Linked DNA regions of Homo sapiens: region 2 is reported to be linked to region 1. Evidence: microRNA targets listed by miRTarBase, many of them from high-throughput screens and not tested one by one. Region 1 holds a microRNA gene; the other region holds the end of a gene's coding sequence.
The links. Region 1 holds the annotated microRNA hsa-miR-520a-5p (CUCCAGAGGGAAGUACUUUCU, at 2,792-2,812, shown strand). A microRNA usually pairs through its seed, bases 2 to 8, with sites in the 3' UTR of a target mRNA and lowers its output. Matches are read on the target gene's strand: a 7mer-m8 pairs with bases 2 to 8, a 7mer-A1 pairs with bases 2 to 7 and ends in A, and an 8mer does both.

Region 2: the mRNA of HOMEZ is a reported target of hsa-miR-520a-5p. Seed matches in the 3' UTR shown: 7mer-A1 at 3,275-3,281 and 8mer at 3,758-3,765.

What each region holds. Positions count from the first base shown.
Region 1 is chr19:53,688,104-53,692,500 of GRCh38, forward strand. MIR520A (microRNA 520a) reads left to right here and starts at 2,778; the gene lies at 2,778-2,862. It overlaps MIR1283-1 (microRNA 1283-1), which reads left to right and starts at 378; the gene lies at 378-464. The region is part of intron 2 of LOC107985342 (a long non-coding RNA gene); the gene reads left to right.
Region 2 is chr14:23,271,998-23,276,394 of GRCh38, reverse strand. It overlaps HOMEZ (homeobox and leucine zipper encoding), which reads left to right. Exons shown (of 2, transcript NM_020834.3): 2 at 1-3,973. The coding sequence ends at 820. RNF212B (ring finger protein 212B) reads right to left here. Exons shown (of 15, transcript NM_001282322.3): 15 at 2,918-3,572. The coding sequence ends at 3,504. Among named protein-coding and RNA genes, the nearest start is that of HOMEZ, 12 kb to the left of the region's middle.

The sequences.
Region 1 (4,397 bases):
ATCTTAGATCACATTTTGGATGTTTCCAATGGGACTGTGTGTCTCCGCACTGGAACTCAAATGAACACTTGGCTCAGAATCCATTTGCTGTTCTCTGGAAATCCAGTCCAATTCTCTTGGTTAAGTATAAGGTATGTCTAGTAGGCATTGCTTTTTCTGTTTGAGAACAAAACTCGGGAGGATTGTCCCTTGATGAACAAGGCTAACCTGCTGAGCCTTTGAAGCAAGGAACTGGAGATGGTCCTTTTCAGGCGTTTTATTCTGGATTCCAGAAAACATGCAAACAGGGCCACTAAATGCATCTTTATTTTTCTGTCCATTTAAACCTGGTCAAAGAAAATTCCAACACGAAACCCAGAGTGCTGGAGCAAGAAGATCTCAAGCTATGAGTCTACAAAGGAAAGCGCTTTCTGTTGTCAGAAAGAAGAGAAAGCGCTTCCCTTTTGAGGGTTACGGTTTGAGAAAAGCAGTGTTGAAGTTGATGCTGATCTTGGTAATACATTTGCAGAGCATGCTTATCATCAGACTTGGATGATAGCGGGGTTATGTTTTGGTTTTGTGTTTTTCTAAGACAGGGTCTCCGTTGCCCAGGCTGGAGTGCGGTGGCACTTCCAACCTAGCTCTCTTGGGCTCAAGTGATCCTCTTTTTATTTATTTATGTATTCATTTTTGAGATGGAGCCTGGCTCTGTCACCCAGGCTGGAGTAGAGTGGGATGATCTCCACTCATTGCATCCTCTGCCTCCCAGGTTCCAGAAATTCTCCCACCTCCGTGTCACTAGTAGCTGGGATTACAAATGCTCACCACTATGACCTGCCAGTTTTTGTACTTTTGGCACAGACGGGGTTTCACCATGTTTGCGGGGCTGGTCTCAACTCCTGACCTCAAGTGATCTGCCTCCTTGGCCTCCCACAGTGCTGGGGATTATAGATATAAGCCACCGTGCCCGGCCCATTCCTGTCTTTTTAATTTAATCTGCTCGTCCCTGACATCGAAAATTTTTCTTGCTTAACAGCTTCCACTTATTTCTCGGAATAGACCTTTTTCTGCAGGAAGGGTGTAGTTGATTCAACCCTCACCCACTCATGCCAACCGTAGTGAGTGCTGTGACTGCAGCTGCACTGTTTATCCTGTTTTCTGCAGGTAATTTTTCCAGTGTACCATTCCAACCTGCAAAACCTCACATTTAAATGCAAATTTCTTGGTAAGCTGTGAAATGTTGGCTGTGGCTAATATGAGAAACAAGCTATTATAGACAAGATGAATCTCAGTTGCAGTGATAAATGTCACATGGGACAAAACCACAGATACTTTCACAAAAACCTTGAGGACCCTAGAAGGGCCTCCCTAGTAACAGGTGGGATGCGCATCCGCTCTTGTTGCCATAGTGAGTGATGCCTGTTCGTCCAGCCCTCAACACCTTTCACTCCGTGGAAGTTATGCCTGCACTGGTTTACAGAACCTCCCTTGACTTGACTTGAGGTAGAGTTGAAGGGAACCTCAGTGTCCCTTGCAGATGGGATGTGCATTGCTTCGCAAGAGCACAGAGGTGGAGTGCATGGGCTTTGAGTTTTTATTGGGTAAATGAAGCTGAAATACAGGGTGTATGACCACGTTATCAACGCACACTTGATTTAGGTTTTGTATTTTAGAGACGGGGGTGTGAGCTGCCAAAGCAAGGACTTATGTGTAGGAATTATTCTTTCTGTGAGCATACAGTATATGGAACTTTCTTTCTTTTGAGACAGGGTCTCAAAAATATATGATGTATGGCCAGGTGCGGTGGATCACGCCTGTAATCCCAGCAGTTTGGGAGGCCGAGGCGGGTGGATAACCTGAGATCAGGAGGGCGAGACCAGACTGGCCAACATGGTGAAACCATGTCTCTGCTAAAAATACAAAAAATTAGCCAGGGCTGGTGGCGCACGCCTGTAGTCTCAGCTACTCCGGAGGGTGAGGCAGGAGACTATCACTTTGAGTGTGTGTCTTTGTGTGTGTGTGTGTGTGTGTGTGTGTGTGTGTATGTGTTTCTAGTTTTTACAAGACACAGCCTGACTATATCACCGAGGCTGGAGTGCAGTGGTGCAATGTTGGCTCACTGCAACCTCCACCTGCCACCGCAGCCTCCTGAATTAGTGTCTACAGGTATGCACCACCACACCTGGCTCACTTTTGTATTTTTTGTACAGATGAAGCTTCACCATGTTGCCCAGGCTTGTCTGGAACTCTTGAGCTCAAGTGATCCTCTCACTTCGGCGTCCTGAAGTGCTGGGGTTAGAGATGTGAGCCACCGCACCCAACAGGTACTTGTGTATTTTTTTATTGAGGAGCTTTTACAGCGTAGCCTGTGGTCTCTCCTGGAGGATGTTTGTGTGTGCGACAATGTACATTCTTCAACATCTTAGATTCCATTTTGGATGCCCCCATGGGTACTACATGTGCCTATACTGGAACTCAAGTGAACACTTGGCTCAAAATCCATTGCTGTTCTCTAGAAATTCAGTTCGATTCTCTTGGTTAAAGATAAGGTATGAGTAGTAGGCATTGCTTTTTCTCTTTGGGGGCAAAACTCAGGAGGATTGCCCCTTGATGAACAAGGCTAACCTGCTGAGCCTTTGAAAGAAGGAACTGGAGATGGTCCTTTTAGGGGGTTTATATTCTGGATTCCAGAAAACATGCAAACAGGGCCAGGAAAAATGCATCTTTATTTTTGTGTCCATTTAAACCTGGTCAAGGAAAATTCCAACAATAAACCCAGAGTGCTGGAGCAAGAAGATCTCAGGCTGTGACCCTCCAGAGGGAAGTACTTTCTGTTGTCTGAGAGAAAAGAAAGTGCTTCCCTTTGGACTGTTTCGGTTTGAGTAAAGCAGCGTTGAAGTTGATGCTGATCTTGGTAATACATTTGCAGAGCACGCTCATCATCAGACTCGGATGATGTTGGGGTTCTGATTTTGTTTTTCTCCAAGACAGGGTCTCTGTTGCCCAGGCTGGAGTGCAGTGGCAGTTCCAACCTAGCTCTCCTGGGCCCAAGAGACCCTCTATTTATTTATTTATTTATTTATTTATTTATTTATTTATTTATTCATTCATTCATTTAGAGATGGAATCTGGCTCTGTGACCCAGGCTGGAGTGCAGTAGGACAATCTCCACTCACTGCAACCTCCATCTCCCAGGTTCCAGCAGTTCTGCCACCTCAGCCTCCCATGTAGCTGGGATTACAGGCGCCCACCACCATGTCATGCTAATTTTTGTATTTTTAGCAGAGATGGGGTTACACCATGTTTGCTGGGCTGTTCTCAACTCCTGACTTCAAGTGATTTGCCTCCCTGGCTTCCCAAAGTGCTGGTATTACAGGCGTGAGCCACTGTGTCCGGCCTCAAGTGGTCTTCCTGAGTCAGCCTCCCAAGTAGTTGGGATTACATGGGGCGTGACACAACACTTGGTTCAGCTTTTAATTTTTGGTAGAGATGGGGTCTCTGTTGCTCAGGACGGTCTCAACTCCTGAGCTCAAGCGATCCTACAGGTGTGAGCCACCTTGTCCTGATGACCCATTTCAAAGATAGTTGACTTGGCCAGGCATCATGGGGCACACAGTCCCAGTTACTGCAGGGGCCGGGGCGGGAGGGTGCTTTGATTTTAAGGCTATACCGTGCACAGATCCCACCTTTGAATAGCCACTGCACTCCAGCCTGGGCCAACATAGCAAGATCCCATTTCTTTAAAAACAGATTACATAGCACCTGGTCCCACAGATTTCATTTGGGTTGGTCATGTCATACAATGGCCTCCCATCAATTTAGTATAATCAATCCAAACCATGGTTCCTTCATTAAGAGAGTGGGTAATCCTCCAAGTCCATCCAGTCTATTCTGTAATCCCCAGTGGGTGTCCGTATTGATACAATTTCTTTTTGTTCCTGTTCACTCGTGTCTTTTTAGTGTAATCTGCTTGTCCGTAACACTGAAATTTGTTTTTCCCCAACATCTTGCCATCATTTCTCGGAATAGACCTGCTTTCTCTGCAGGAAGGGTGTAGTTGATTCAACCCTCACCCACTAATGCCAACCCCAGTGAGTTCTTTGACTGTAGCTGCCATGTTTATCCTATTTTCTTTGGGTAACGATTCCAAGGTACCATTCCAATGGGCTTAAACCTTGCATCTAAATGCCAGTTACTTGCTAAGATGTCAAATGTGTCTTATATTAGCTGTGGCTAATATAAGAAACTGTTGTAGACAAGATGAATCTCAGTCACAGTGATAAATGTAGCATGCAACAAAACCAGTTGTTTTCACAAAAATCTTGAGGACCCTAGAAGGGGCTCCCTCGTAACAGGTGGAATGCACAGCAGCTCTTCTTGTTGCCATAGTGAGCGATGCATGTTCTTCCAGTCCTCAA
Region 2 (4,397 bases), not on the chromosome of region 1:
ATCTAGTGTTACTCCCTCTTCTTCCTCTACCTCTTCTTCTTTCCAGGTACTGGCTAATGGAGCTACTGCCGCCTCTAAACCCCTCCAGCCACTAGGCTGTGTCCCACAGTCAGTGTCACCCAGTGAACAGGCATTACCCCCACATCTGGAACCAGCCTGGCCCCAAGGGCTACGGCATAACTCAGTACCAGGTAGAGTTGGCCCCACAGAGTACCTTTCCCCAGATATGCAACGCCAGCGAAAGACCAAGCGCAAAACCAAAGAGCAGCTGGCTATCCTTAAATCCTTTTTTTTACAGTGCCAGTGGGCACGGCGTGAGGATTACCAAAAGTTAGAACAGATCACTGGTTTACCTCGGCCTGAGATCATTCAGTGGTTTGGTGACACACGCTATGCCTTGAAGCATGGGCAACTAAAGTGGTTTCGGGACAACGCAGTACCTGGTGCCCCTAGTTTCCAAGACCCAGCAATTCCTACACCACCACCATCAACCCGCTCCTTGAACGAAAGGGCTGAGACACCACCTCTGCCGATCCCTCCACCCCCACCGGATATACAACCCTTGGAGAGGTACTGGGCAGCCCACCAACAGCTACGGGAAACTGATATCCCTCAATTGAGTCAGGCATCAAGGCTTAGCACCCAGCAGGTGCTGGATTGGTTTGACTCTCGATTACCTCAGCCAGCTGAGGTGGTAGTTTGTCTAGATGAAGAAGAGGAAGAGGAGGAGGAAGAACTGCCAGAAGATGATGAGGAAGAGGAGGAGGAGGAGGAGGAAGATGATGATGATGATGATGATGATGTGATCATACAAGACTGAGTGGGGAGCTGGGGGAGGGGAGGTCTGTTACTGAAAGATGAACCAACTTAGTAACTGTTTAAACAAAGAAACCACATTTTTAAAATTACCTTGTGGCAGAGAACTAAAAAGCTTTGTGTTCTTCAGGGTGGGTGGCAGGGGGATATAGTGAGGGTGGACCAGGGAGAATGACCATAGGGCACTAAGTAAGGCTGGGATTGGATCAGCAGAAATCCAACCCTCTAACCTTAGGGTAGGGAGTGCTAAGGATCTGGGGAAACCATGGGCTGGGAAGCTGCTCTTGCTCTCCTCGTGTCTGCTGTTTTTTTCCCTTGGTGTACTATACAGAGGCCAGATGTTGGCACCACCTCTCCAGGAGGATTGGAAAGGAGGAGTAAAGGATTCTGATTTGATTGATGATTCCAGTGCATCCCCAATCCCACCATCTTACCTGGAATATAAGGCTGCCTTGTACCCCTTTTCTGAGCACAAGTCTGTGCGTAATGCAACTGACTCTCTTACTTTTTTCTTAGTAACTGATCATTTCCTAGACAACCAAGATTCTCAATAAGTCCCAGTCTCATCACAAATATTAATATTTCCTTTTCCTCATACCAACTTGACTATGTTTCACCCGCTTCATGACTAAATCACAGGTGGCAGAATTTTTCAGTTCTTTTTTTTTTTTTTGAGGTGGAGTCTTGCTCTGTCGCCCAGGCTGTAGTGCAATGGCGCAATCTCAGCTCACTGCAAGCTCCGCCTCCCAGGTTCATGCCATTCTCCTGCCTCAGCCTCCCGAGTAGCTGGGACTACAGGCACCTGCCACCACACCCGGCTACTTTTTTATATTTTTAGTAGAGACGGGTTTCATCATGTTAGCCAGGATGGTCTTGATCTCCTGACCTCATGATCCGCCCACCTTGGCCTCCCAAAGTGCTGGGATTATAGGCATGAGCCACCGTGCCCGGCTATTTTCAGTTCTTATGCTGTGACCACTTTGCCTTGTAGCTTTTTCTATCTTTCCAAAATCCTCACTCTGTTCATTGTTTGTCTCAGGGAAAATCTTCCCCCACCGAGCTTGTAAAAAACTTTAATAATTGGGTGGAGAATAATTTAGAATGGATATTTATTGGAGGTGGTAATTAGGGAAGATGTCCTTTTAAACAGTAGAATTGTGTTACAAAGGGGTGAAAGAGAGGGAATAGTTTCTCCTTGTTGAAGGGCAGTGAAGGTAGGTTTCAGGTTTGGTTTTACAAACCTGTTAACTACCTCCTGTCCAGCTTGACAGAGACTAATTTTTCATCTTTTTGCTGTCAATTTGTTTCCAGAAAAGAGACTTTTCCCTCTCTTGATAGGATCTGTCTTAGGGACAGAGGGACCATCGTCTTTAAGTGAATTAATTATTGATGTTTTAGAATGGTTTTCATCAGTTGGGATCAGCTATATGGCAAATAGGTATCATCAATGAGTTAACCATCTAAAAATAAAAGAGTGGAAGCCCTAAAATGCTAGAATAATAATAAAAAGGCCAAAAATAAAATTGTTTCTCTCTCAACCACTTTGCCACTCCTATGGTTTAGGGATTAATGGAACCAAATCCATTAACATTCTAACTCAGCATACTTTTAACTTATTGTTTGGAGGGGCAGGACTTATTGAGGTAAATTAAAAGAACAAAAACTGTAAAAAGGAAGTAGTTCAGCATCTATCGCCAGCCAGGTTGTTTCTCAGCCATCAAATGATAATGACTAAAATTTCTGAGGCTTCAGGAGTAACAGAGATACAACAGTCTTGGAGGTAACTCCATTTGCTACAGGACAGGCCCTTGCCTAAAAGAGAAGGTATCTAGAAATGCCTTTAAAATAAATTCAGAGTACCAGAAAGGGTATGGGGATCCTAGTTCAGATACAAGATCATTCCCAAGACCTAATTTATTTCTGGCAGATGCCTGCTATTTTCTGTTTTTCCAGTATTTTTGCTTAAGGCCAGCTTGTGAGTGGCTAACCTATTTAATTCGTCATTTCTGCCTTTTAAAACCCAAAGTAGAATACATGTTTGATCTCAGTGATAGTGTTGTTCGCCCATTCCACCATTCTAGAGCTTGTAAAAGTGATAGAATTGTAGCAATAAAAGGGCATCGTCTTTATTTTACTATCTATATACTAAGCTGAAAATCAGTGTCTCCAACAGTTGTTTTCAATAGAAAGGAAAATTAACATTTAATAGTAACTAAGCATAGAGGAAATAATAGACAAATAAAAAAGTATAATAAGGAAAAGAACAGAGATATTGCTCGTTAACATTGGCAATGGGACAGTATATCCAAAGCTAAAAATGAAATCCAGAAATGAAACAGTGATGAGTATATGATCCATCACAATCCCCATTCCCAACTCCCAACCAAGCATGATGCCAAGAATTATTTTTTTGACCTTTGTTCCAAATTGTAGGAAATGAGGGGAGCTACCAGTGTCTTCTGGAAGAGATATAAACATCTTCCTGAAGCACTAGCCTTTTGTAAGACCTGACCACTGTCCTGGGAGGTGATAAGGGTGAATAGGGTAAAGATGGGGGGAGCATAAGGTACAGAGTGAAACTAGGAAACAATGCAGGGATACATTTTCCAGGGCCATCACCCCTAATGCGTACTGGAAGCTACAGTCCATCCTTCAGCAGCATGTATAGATCAGATCTTGAAGATGATCTATCTAGAAGTGGTCCATGCTTCTCTCCCACTGGGTAATCCCATATGCCTCCGTTGTTGGTAGAGAGTCTGCAGCAGAGGACAAGAAGGTAGATGTGGGTGTTTATAACAGCAAAAAGGGCAAGCAAGTCTCTCTGACCTGTTGTATGAAGCTTATCGAGACAGACACCACTGCTTTTGCTTCCCCATAGTTTTCTTCATTGCATGATAACTAACTTTTCCAAACTAGGATTTGCTACATCTAGTGTGACAATCTCTGGAACATTTCAGTAGCTTATGGTGATAATAATAAGGATGAATATTTGAAAATTAAACTATTTTGGAAAATCTGGGACATATGACTACCACACCCAGAGATGACTACCAGGGAGGCAGAGTTCTTAGGCCTCTGAGGAGGTGGCATTTCCTTCAATAACTTTAAAATTTTTTCACATTTTCGGTTGTTTGTTTGTTTGTTTGTTTGTTGTTTTTTTGAGATGGAGTCTCGCTCTGTCACCCAGGCTGGAGTGCAGTGGTGCATCTCCGCTTACTGCAAGCTCCGCCTCCCGGGTTCACGCCATTCTCCTGCCTCAGCCTCCCACGTAGCTGGGACTACAGGCGCCCGCCACCATGCCCGGCTAATTTTTTGTACTTTTTTTAGTATAGACGGGGTTTCACCATGTTAGCCAGGATGGTCTCGATCTCCTGACCTCATAATCCGCCCGCCTCGGCCTCCCAAAGTGCTGGGATTACAGGCATGAGCCACCACGCCTGGCCCACATTTTCAAAAAATACATAGAATAGTATAATGAACTCATGTGCCCATTGTCCATCTTTAACAAATAATTAATGGCCAATCTTTTATTTCTACTCTCCCAGTGTCCCTCCCTACTAAATTACACTGATGCAAACGCC